Linked DNA regions of Homo sapiens. The protein of the gene in region 1 purifies or fractionates together with the protein of each later gene. This does not show direct contact. Each region holds a gene or a part of one and is shown in the gene's direction. Other genes may lie near its edges.

Region 1 (3,653 bases):
GTAACATGAAAATACATCTAATCTATCAGTAGTAGACATCTATTTTTGAGGTTCCCTTGTCACAGTGAACAAAATGTGTGCTGACCTTTTTTGGAAACACTTTTTCAATACAATATACACTTGTAAGATCTTGGGCTAGAAACGCTACTCTAGGTATAGCCATGGCATACAATTAAACCTATCCATTTAGTCATTTAATTTATCTTGTACTTATTTGTATTCTTAATTATTGCCAACTAATATAACCATATAGGTTACATTATAGGATTATTTCTTACAATCTAGGGAAGAGCAAACAACTGCTTTCCTATAGAATATAAGAGCATAGATACATTCTCTTAATTTACTGGCTTCTTTTAAAAATCCAGTGGGATAATGGGAAAGTGTGTGAAGTACTCTATTCAATAAATGCTGTTTTAAAATATTAATGGTTAAAATTAACATTTTAATTTTTAAATTAAAAACAATGTGTTTTAAAATTGTTTTTGGTGCTTCTAAAATAATTTAATTTTAAATGTTTTATAGTTTACATTCCACTAGTCTTTAAAATCATAGGTTGGTCTTTTAAAACAGTTAAACATATCAGAAAATTTTAAGTTGTCTTTCATCATTTGTCATATTTAATTAACTTTGTCAGTTGATACCTCAAGAATTGAATTGCTGGCATGAAAACTATTTTGTATTGGAATTTAGCTAAGGGTGAACATTAAAAGTTCACTTTGAATTGTTTTTCTGTTTGGCTTCTCTTAGGTATTTGGATTTGCTCAAGGACACGAACCTTATTAAAACTCAGGATGTGTTTACAGTCATTCGATATATCTCATATAACAGCTATGGGAAGAACATGGCCTGGAATTGGATACAACTCAACTGGGACTATCTAGTCAACAGGTGGGATGATCTGATGATGGTCTGCTGTTTTCTTTGTTTCATACTATCTACTGGTTCCTTCATTTTTCTTTGGGCCACTGTCTCTGACATCTATACAATATCTAAAATGGCATTATTAGAGGTAAAGGATCATGGTATTATCCTTCCAGGGAAGCAATGTACTAGTTAATTTTAAGAACAATTTTTTTCTGGAAATTATTGTTTCAACTGACCTATAGGATTCTGAGATCTGGAAGACTAAATTGCATTATTTTTAGTTTGGTTAAAACAAGTTAATACAATTCTGCCTGTTGTGCTAGTACCTAGCATAATGCCAGGCACATATTTAGTTCTCAATTAATGTTTGATTAAAGCTAGGTAAAAATTATTGGACCTGGGTTCAAATTAGAGTTCTATATCATACTGAGCTTATGTGGGTGATAACTATTACCTATCCTGACCAGATAATGAAATTTCAAGTATTTTGAATGTTTCTTAAAAGGGAATTATATTTCCTAGGCAATAGAACTTTTAAAATGGGAAATAGCAAGGACAAGAGCAAAATCAGTTAAAGAGATGCCTTTCCAAACTTCGTATTTCCTCAGGCCCGTGCAGAAGAAAGATTGCTGCTCTTGGTTCTGATACTCTAAATATAATGCACAATTTCCATCCAAAAGGCAGTTCTTTGATAGAGTACAAAATAGAATATAGAATAAACGTATGTCCCAAATAAACATATAAACATTGATGAAAAGACCTTTACCATCTGTAATCCCTACATTAGGAAATAGCCTGTGTTATCTCCTCTTAATCTCTCCTGTCAATCCAGCGGCACTGTCTCATTGATAATGACTGCCTTGTGAGAAATACCAACTCTAATTATAACTTTTAATTATTTTCTCTTTTCTACCCCACAGCTCACCAGAGTGCTATTATGTCCATTTACATTTCTTTTCCTGCTGAGATTCAGATTCTACCTCTAGCTCCCAACCAAAATACACTACATTGCTTCTGCCTGCTTGTGATAAATTTTTACCTTTTCTATTCTTGTAACTATTGAGTGTCACTGTTCACCCATCTCTATGAAGATTGGTTGGTGTGCATGTGAGTGTGTGTGTGTGTGTGCACGCACATATGTGCATTGTTCATCTTTTATGATTGTTTAAATGAAATGCTTAATTTAGAATGAATGAATATACCTATTAAGAATATGTTATTATCTAGATGTAACAGTTTATATCATGCAAGGTAATACCCTCCATTTTGAAAAATATATGGCTAGTGATAAATACTGCATATTTTGTTTTAGTTGAAAAGACCATACAACTATCTCTTTTTCTGTGGTGTATGGTGCAGGAAACCTATGTAGATGAAGCATAAAAGTTACTTTTGAGTTACTATGAAAAGACAAGTAAATAATGGTTTATTTTGCATAAAATGGCCATTAACTTATTGTTTATTGAATAAATATTTCTCAAGGCCTATTTGAGTAGCTATGCTGTGATTTATTTCAAATAATGCATTTTTCATTTTTAAAAATTAGTTGTTTCACTTCAGGAAAATTAAGAAGTAGAAAAAAATAGGTTTTGCCTTGTCATAAAATTCATAAGTGTCTGGCCTTAAAATAAATGTATTAGGCCTGGTAAATTGATTATTTTTCAAGATAAAAAAAGAAGATAAACTATTTCCAGAAGTACTCCAAAACTCTTGCCCAAGGCTTTAGCATTTCTTCATAATCTAATGATCTAATTCTCATGAGACATTATTTCAAATGGCCCCAAATGTAAAATTGCTAATAACCACATGTCTAATACACACAAACACCCAATATTAATTGTACTTGGCTTGAATAAACAGAACTTCCCTATGAAAATTGGATAATAAAAATTAAACAAAAATGAGCCAAACTTTATCCAAATAATCCCAAACACTTGAACATTTTCCAAATTTCAGGATGAATAGTTTTACTATCTCCATTTCTGAACAATTTATGGTCATCCTGAAATAAATAATCTTCTATTTAAATAAAGCTTTTGTCATGTGATTTTTATGACAACTGATGGCCACACTGCTAATGTCCTTGCCAGTTTGAGACTTAGCCACAAAGTCCCAAAGATACTTCAGAAATTATTCTTTGCTTTTGTTTCTTCCAATAAACTCTTAGATGAAACTGTGAAGTTGAGTTGACCCAATAATAAGGTGGTGTGATTTTAGTTTATGACAGTAGATGAAAAACTAAGTCATTAGGACATGATTGAAACCCTTCAAATACTACCTCATAAACCAAACAATTTAATAAGCACTTAAAAGTTTTGTGTGTATTAAAATTATTTCTTTGGATAACATAATAATACTTGTATAAATATTGAATCCAAGAAGACAATATTTGTAAATTTTTTTCAAATTATTTAAAATATAATTAAATCCTTATTTTAGTTTTTAAAAATAACCAATATGATAAGCATGCAGTATATTTTCCCTTATTTTCTATACTTTATATGATATTAGTTTCCTGGGGTGTACATATTTTGTTCTGGCATTTCTGGTATTTAAACAAGTAGTTGCAGTTTTCACTCAGCATATTCATTGCTAGTTTCTAAATATGTCCTTTAGACAAAACAGAAATAAATATTACAGAAATTATAGAAGGTCACTGAAAACATTGTTTTATTAGCTGCAATTAGCAGACTTTCTTTGAATCTATAGAATCTCATCAAAGCAACTCAGTGTGATTTGCTTTTTTAAATTCCTGTTTTCTTATTGTGAAACTGGTATGTGTTTTT
Region 2 (3,653 bases), on another chromosome or scaffold:
GTCCTCACGTCTCTGCAGGGCAGAATCTGACTTTCCCTCAGCCCAGGGAGACTACAGAGTCTGAAGTCACCCAGGTGTGATGGATGAGCTCAGACCCTTGCTCGGATCTCAGCTGGAGTCCCAGCTCTGCCTCCTGCTAGCTCTGTGATTTCTGGCCAGTGTTGTAACCACTCTGTTGTTTAGTTTCCTCCTAGACAAAATGAGAAAAATAATTCCTATCTCACAGTCTCTTCCTCCCGGTGCCTCTAGAGCTGTGCTGTCCGGCACAGCGGCCCCTAGCCACAGGTAGCTGCTACAAATTAAAATGAAATAGAATGTAAAATCCAGCTCCTCCATTGCCCTAGCACCTAGCCGCTTTCTAAGTGCTTGGTTGCCACATTGCAGCTAGTGGCCACCATACGGGACCGCACAGATAGAGAACATTCCCATTATCGCAGAAGGTTCTATTGCGCAGCACTGAGCTAGGGATTTGGACAGCCTAGAAGGCCGTGCCTTCTGAGCTCAGCTTCCTGGATCTGAATCACAGCATCCACTACACATGCCCACTGCATTTTTCCTGGCAGGGGAGAGGGTTGGAGACCTCAGTATCCCCTGAGCCCACCCTCTCTAGAGGCCGTGGGGAGCCGGGCACAGCTTTGGAGTCCTCTGGGCAGCAGGGGCTGGAGGGCTGCACCTCCGTTCACCACCCCTCCTCTTTAGCCTTCCTCTAGCAAGGTCTCAGGCTTCCAGGCCCCACGTGGGGTGAGGAGGGAGGAAGAATGGCTTTGCTTTATGAGTACTGAGCCCCCATCCTGCCAATCTGAGCATTAGAAACTCTCATTAAGAACTGTTGTATTTAAATTAGAGCTAATCTCAAGCACAATGCAGGGAGAGGGTGCTGGGAGGAGCCACGGGAGAAAGCTACAATTTTTTCTGCCATTGTCACTCTCTCCCAGGCCCAGATTGCTGAGCAGCCCTGGCAAATGCCTGGGATTTACTGCAACCAGAGGATATAATTTGCACCACGTGCAGGGAGTTAAAATACCCCTCCGGCATCCCCTTCACTGAGGGTCTGTCACAGCCGCTTTGTTCCTTCCCAAATCCCCAGATCTGTAGCCCTGGGATGGGAAGGGGAGGGGGGCCAGCCCTTGCATGAGCAAATCCCCTGTTGGCAAAACACTTAAGCACTGCTCTCTACCTGAGGGCTGGGATCCAAGACCCCACATGACAGCAATAATGACAGCTAATGGATAGTGCTTAGCAGGTGCCAGGCACTTTTCTTAGCACTTTACAAATATTAACTCATTCAACCCTGACAACAACCACTGGGGTTGGATGTTATTATGACTGTCTCCATTTAGTGATAGGAATACTGAAACCAGAGAGGTTAAATGACTTGCCCAAGGTCACACAGCCAACGTATGGCAGAATCAGGATTTGAACCCAAGGAAGTCTAACCTTGAGTGTTTTTGGAGGGGAAGGGACCAGGCACCTTCCAGATAGGCAAAACAGGGTACTCACACATGCAAGAAAGCCCAGAGGGACTGGGAAACTCTCTAGTTATCACCCTGAGGCCAGAAGTGAGTTGGGAGAACCGGTTCTTTATAGCCCTGTGGGATAGTGAGGTGCCTTTATCCACAGACCCTGTCTCAGATGCAGCCAAAGTTCAGAGCACCACGGACCATCAGGGCTGAAAAGGCCAACCTCTCCATTTTCATAGGAAATTGAGGCCCAGAAAGAAGCCACCCCTACCCCCAGGTCACAGTCTAGTTACTGGGTGAGCTGGGCTGGGACCCAGGTGTCCTGACTCCCGCCCTGCGTTCTCCCATGCTCCATTGTTCTCTTGGGAGACCTCATGGCAAGCCCAGGCCCCACCACGGAGACCCCTCTGTGAAGGACTGCCCCTTACCCTTTGTCCCTTCCCCAGGACAGAGTCTGTGGCTGAAAAGATGCTGACCAATTGGTTCGCCTTCCTCCTGCACAAGTTCCTAAAGGTGAGAAAGGGAGTGAGACGGGGCCTAGCGTCCAGGGCAGGATGGCACTGCTGCTTAGATCCTGGCCACAGGGCTGCATGGGGACCCCCTCCCTCGGGAGCAGGAACCTGGACTGGCTGTGCTAAAGCCCTTCCTTCCACTGGCCTCGCTCCGAGAGAGGAAAGGGAAAACGTACAAACCTGAGGAGGCCGTGCCCACACCTCCTGCCCTGTCTGTGCCCACAGGAGTGCGCAGGGGAGCCACTCTTCATGCTATACTGTGCCATCAAGCAGCAGATGGAGAAGGGCCCCATTGATGCCATCACGGGCGAGGCCCGCTACTCCCTGAGCGAGGACAAGCTCATCCGGCAGCAGATCGAGTACAAGACCCTGGTGAGGAAGCCGGAAGCTCCGGGCCCGCCTGTGTATCTTCTACTTCTGCCCCTTGCTCTGCCTTCTGTCCATAAAAGCAGTCTAGGGGGTCAATAAAGAGGATGGGAGGCTGGTCTGGGGTGAGCCCAAAGGACAACTAAGTGTACCAAGAGCAAGGTGGCAGGCCCGCCCACCCATCCCAAGCACTCTATGCCTCGGTTTATCCTAGATAATATTGGGGGAGAAAAAAGTTCACCCATCATTAGTTATTGGGTAATTGGTATTATGAGAAAGATGTATGTTGGTTCCTAACATAGAGGCTTTGGGGAAGTGCATGACTAGTCTCTGATACATGTAGAGCCATCTCTAAACACTGAGGGTGCCTCATTCCAGGACTATAGTCTCCCCTAAGCTGTCCAGGAGCTAGAAAGTAGAGTCCTGGTGCTTTGAGAAAGAAGAATTGGACACAATGACTCAGACTCTCATTTGGCAGATGTTATGAAGGTGAGGGAAACTGAGTCACAGACCAGAAAAGTACCCTTATTTCCCCTATAAGGAGGGTGAACTTTGGAAAAAGAAGATTCTGAGGTCCTGACCCTCTCCCTCAAACTACTCCTTCAACTCCTGTCCTGCTCACCCTCTGTCCCCTACTTGTAGATCCTGAACTGCGTCAACCCTGACAACGAGAACAGTCCAGAGATCCCAGTGAAGGTGTTAAACTGTGACACCATCACACAGGTCAAGGAGAAGATTCTTGATGCCGTGTATAAGAATGTGCCCTATTCCCAGCGGCCGAGGGCAGTGGACATGGACTTGGGTAGGAAACCTGGACTCAGAGTGTGAGGGCAGGGGTTGAGAGGTGAAGGAAGGGAAGCTGCCATGCACACAACCCTTGCAGGGGCATGACTGTGTCCTGGCCAGCTGAGGCCCGTGTGAAATGCTTCCCGCTTTGAGCGCTGCCTGTTCAGATGTGGCTGTCTCTGGGGAGGTCTACGTGTTTCCTCTGCTGCCTGGGCCCATGGAGCCCTAGATGTCTCTAGCCTCTGTTATTGGTACCAGCTTGAGGGGGCCGGGTTGCCAGGTCCCTAGAGAAGGTGCAATCGGGAGACACTGGCTCACAGCCCTCATCCCTCTCACGCCGCTCCCTGCACCACCCCCTCCACCCAGAGTGGCGCCAAGGCCGGATCGCCCGGGTCGTGCTGCAAGATGAGGACATCACCACCAAGATTGAGGGTGACTGGAAGCGGCTCAACACACTGATGCATTATCAGGTGAGAGGGGGTGTCTTTTCCCCTCTTCAGCTTCCCAGAATGTTCCCTTCCCGCTAAGC
Region 3 (3,653 bases), on another chromosome or scaffold:
TGGGATTTTCTGGGTGCTTCCCCCTCCCCCCGTTCCTACCCGCAGCAGGAATCCCCCGACCCCCACCTGTTCCCTGGCATGGCATGGGTCAGCCAGCAGTGTGCCATTCATCCTGTCTCACGGCCGTCCCTTGCCCAGTGCCACAAGTGGGCAGGGCCTTGATGCTCTGTTGCGTGGGGCTTTGTAGGCCCCTCCGGCCCCAGCTCACAGCTGCTCCACCCTCTGTCTGTCTCTCTACCCTGCTCCCAGGCCAGCGTGACGTCCACGCCGGGAAGCCCCTCCACTGACCCAGGCCCATCTTCCCTCCTCCCCGCCCCTTGCCTGGCACAGCCCCCAGGGACAAGGACGCTGTGCAGGCGGCCTGCGCGCACGCGCACGTGCACACGCCCACCCCCACCCCTCACTCTTCTCGCTCTTTCTGCCATTTCTCAGCGGCGCACTCTGCAGCTGCCTCTCACCCTTTGTGCTCCGGTTTCCTCTTCTCTCCCTTTCTCTGCTGCCTGGGTCTCCGTTTCGGAATTTCCCCACCCCCTAACCATCTCCATCGTGGTTAGCGCTGTCTTCCTACGTCTGTCTTTGTCTCCTGCTCCCCCCTGCCTCTTCTCACTCTGTCTGTCACCCTTGGCAGACCCGGCCTTGGCTCCATCTGTGGAACACTCCCCCCTCCCCGCTCCTTTGCCCTTAGTGGTGCTGGTGGGGGGTAGAGGGCCTGCTGAGCTGACAACCCTAGCTGCTTGCTCTGTAATTGCCTGAGGAATGGTGAGAGATCAGAGACCCAGCAGCAGTGGGAGGAGAGGAGGGAGCGCCCCCTCCCAGCTGTTATATCTCGCAACCTTCTGGCTGCTTCCTGCCTGTCTCCGACTGCCCAGGGCGGTGGCAAGCTAGGTGGCAAATACTGGGAGACCAAAAAAGAAGTTGGATATGAGCCTGTGGGGAGATGGGATGGGGCTGGGATGGGGCAGGGAGCGGGGACCAGGGGTTTGGGGATATTGTATTTCCCCTGAGCGTACATGCCAAACACCATTCCAGGATTCTAGATTTGGAGGACAAATAGAGGAACTTGCGTGGCAGAAATTATCGACCTCCAGAGCACCCAAAAGCCTCTGACATGCAGGAGGGTCCTTCTTTGAGCTTTTCCTTGCTCCGGTTTCCTCCCCTCCCCCTCCTAAGACCAGTGCTCAGAGCTCCCAAGGCTGCTGTTTGATCATCTGCTCTCTGATCCGAGTCTCCTACTGCTCCTACAGGCCTTGAAGTTGAGGCCAGTGCTGCCTGGGGCCTCCCCTGATCCACTGGCTTTGTAGGGAGAGGCCGGGGTGGAACAGATCCACTGTTGCTCTTCCCTTCTGGGCCCAGGTCCAGCTCTTGCAGGCTGGGAATCACTCTTCTTACCCTCCAAGTCATCTCTTGGCCTCCAGGCCATGCACGCTGACCCACCCTGCTGCTTCTCCACCACCCTCTGCAGCAAGCTCTTGCCCAGAGTCCCCACGGGATCTGCCGCATTCACAGCTCTTCTTGGGTCACTCTGTTACACAAAACTGACAAGGCCCAGAGCCTTAGCACAGCATGGCTGACTTCTCTACCATCCTTTCGGTGTTCCTGCTGAGGCTCGGTGCCCGCTTTGATAAGGTCCTGGCTGGGCAGAGGGAGGATGCACAGTATGGATTTAATGAAGGCGTCTAGTCTGGGACTTCAGCCTCCAAGCTCTGTCACCTAACAACACCCTTTCTTGCCTTGCCTGCACTTTAACCACTTCCTGTTTGGAATTGAAGTGGTCTGGCCACTTGGGAGTCTGTTTCCTCTTGTCATTGTCAGAGGAGCCCCCTCTTTCAGACCCTTAGTCTTTGGCTCCCCTTACTTGTAGGTGAATATGGACATGGCCGGTGTGGCTTGGGTTTGGGGTGGACACATGCAGCAGTTGAGCTCTGAAGACTCAGACAAAGACCTAGAAATTGGGACTTTGAGACACACAAGAAGTGTTAGAAACACTGTCACGGAAAATGTCCCAGAGCTTGTCCTGACCCCTGTCCTGACCCTAACCTGGAGCATCTGGAAGGGAGGAGGCCTCAGTGGCCTCTCTTGACCCCCAGGGGGCTGAGGAGCAGCAGGGGGTTGTTTTCCTCCTTCCTCTCTTCTCCCACACCAGTTCTCAAGGGAAGGCTTCCTTCCCCATTCTTTCTCTCTTTTTTTTGAGATGGAGTTTCGCTCTTGTTGCCCAGGCTGGAGTGCAATGGTGCGATCTTGGCTCACTGCAACTTCCGCCTCCTGGGTTCAAGAGATTCTCCTGCCTCAGCCTCCCAAGTAGCTGGGATTACAGGAATGCACCACCACGCCAGGCTAACTTTTTTTTTTTTTTTGAGACAGAGTCTTGCTCTGTCACCCAGGCTGGAGTACAATGGCGCAATCTCCGCTCACCGCAACCTCTGCCTCCTGGGTTCAAGTGATTCTCCTGCCTCAGCCTCCTGAGTAGCTGGGATTACAGGCATGAGCCACCACGCCTGGCTTTTTTTTTTTTTTTTTTTTTTTTTTTTGTATTTTTAGTAGAGACAGGATTTCACCATGTTGGCCAGGCTGGTCTCAAACTGCTGACCTCATGATCCGCCTGCCTCAGCCTCCCAAAGTGCTGGGATTACAGGCGTGAGCCACCACGCCCAGCCCTAATTTTGTATTTTTACTAGAGACAGGGTTTCACCATGTTGGCCTGGCTGGTTTTGAACTCCTGACTTCAGGTGATCCACCCACCTCGGCCTCCCAAAGTGCTGGGATTACAGGCATGAGCCACTGTGCCTGGCCTTTTATTTTTATTTTTATTTATTTTTTTAGACAGAGTCTCACTCCATCACCCAGGCTGGGGGGCAGTGGCACGATCTTGGCTCACTGCAACCTCCGCCTCTCAGGCTCAAGTGATTCTCATGCCTCAGCCTCCCAAGTAGCTGGCATTACAGGCGCCCACCACCAAGGCTAATTTTTTTTCTTTTTGTATTTTTAGTAGAGACGGGGTTCCGCCATGTTGGCCAGGCTGGTCTCAAACTCCCAACCTCAAGAGATCCACCCACCTCAGCCTCCCAAACTACTGGGATTACAGGCGTGAGCCACCACGCCTGGCCCTTTCCCCATTCTTTCTTCATTTTCCTGAAACTATTTTGTGAAATGCTGCCATCTTGGGCCCCTTTCCTCCCTTCTCTATCCCACTTCCCAATCCCCCCATTAGCTTTTTAGGTCTGTACAGCACCCAGGCATCAGTTGGCTCTGAAAGCTATAGCAATGTGACTGCAAGAAGAATTCTTCTCTACATGTGTGTGCACACAGAGATAATAGATACAGGGATTCATCCCCACAGATACATAAAGACATACAAGAAGACACACGTAGCTAGCAGACTTGTGTGTTGATTCCCTCAGGCACACACACTAACACACCCACTCATGAGTGCAACCCCTCCCAGAGAAGACACACCACAGAAATACCAGCTCACATACAGCTCACTCCCTGCTTGCAGATCCACAACCACACACATGCCCACGGACACCTGCACATGCAGACACATACGGGGATGTGCATGCCATGCACAGGGGAGCTGATGGGGCAACAAGTTGGTGCTGGGAAGGCAGCTGGCAGGAAAGGTGCAGACAGAGAGTAGAGAGGGAATAAAAGGC

What was found.
Region 2: the proteins of ENPEP (region 1) and PLXNA2 fractionate together in Homo sapiens (co-fractionation; one large-scale study listed by BioGRID). This does not show direct contact.
Region 3: the proteins of ENPEP (region 1) and L1CAM fractionate together in Homo sapiens (co-fractionation; one large-scale study listed by BioGRID). This does not show direct contact.

The regions. Positions count from the first base shown.
Region 1 is NC_000004.12:110,552,565-110,556,217, forward strand, and holds part of ENPEP (glutamyl aminopeptidase), read left to right. Parts: intron 1-750; coding exon 751-891; intron 892-1,787; coding exon of another isoform or gene 1,788-1,833; exon of another isoform or gene 1,834-2,354; intron 2,355-3,653. UniProt on the Homo sapiens protein: Regulates central hypertension through its calcium-modulated preference to cleave N-terminal acidic residues from peptides such as angiotensin II.
Region 2 is NC_000001.11:208,038,312-208,041,964, reverse strand, and holds part of PLXNA2 (plexin-A2 precursor), read left to right. Parts: intron 1-1,906; coding exon 1,907-1,973; intron 1,974-2,197; coding exon 2,198-2,344; intron 2,345-2,980; coding exon 2,981-3,140; intron 3,141-3,490; coding exon 3,491-3,594; intron 3,595-3,653. UniProt on the Homo sapiens protein: Coreceptor for SEMA3A and SEMA6A. Necessary for signaling by SEMA6A and class 3 semaphorins and subsequent remodeling of the cytoskeleton. Plays a role in axon guidance, invasive growth and cell migration.
Region 3 is NC_000023.11:153,876,163-153,879,815, reverse strand, and holds part of L1CAM (neural cell adhesion molecule L1 isoform 1 precursor), read left to right. Parts: intron 1-3,653. UniProt on the Homo sapiens protein: Neural cell adhesion molecule involved in the dynamics of cell adhesion and in the generation of transmembrane signals at tyrosine kinase receptors.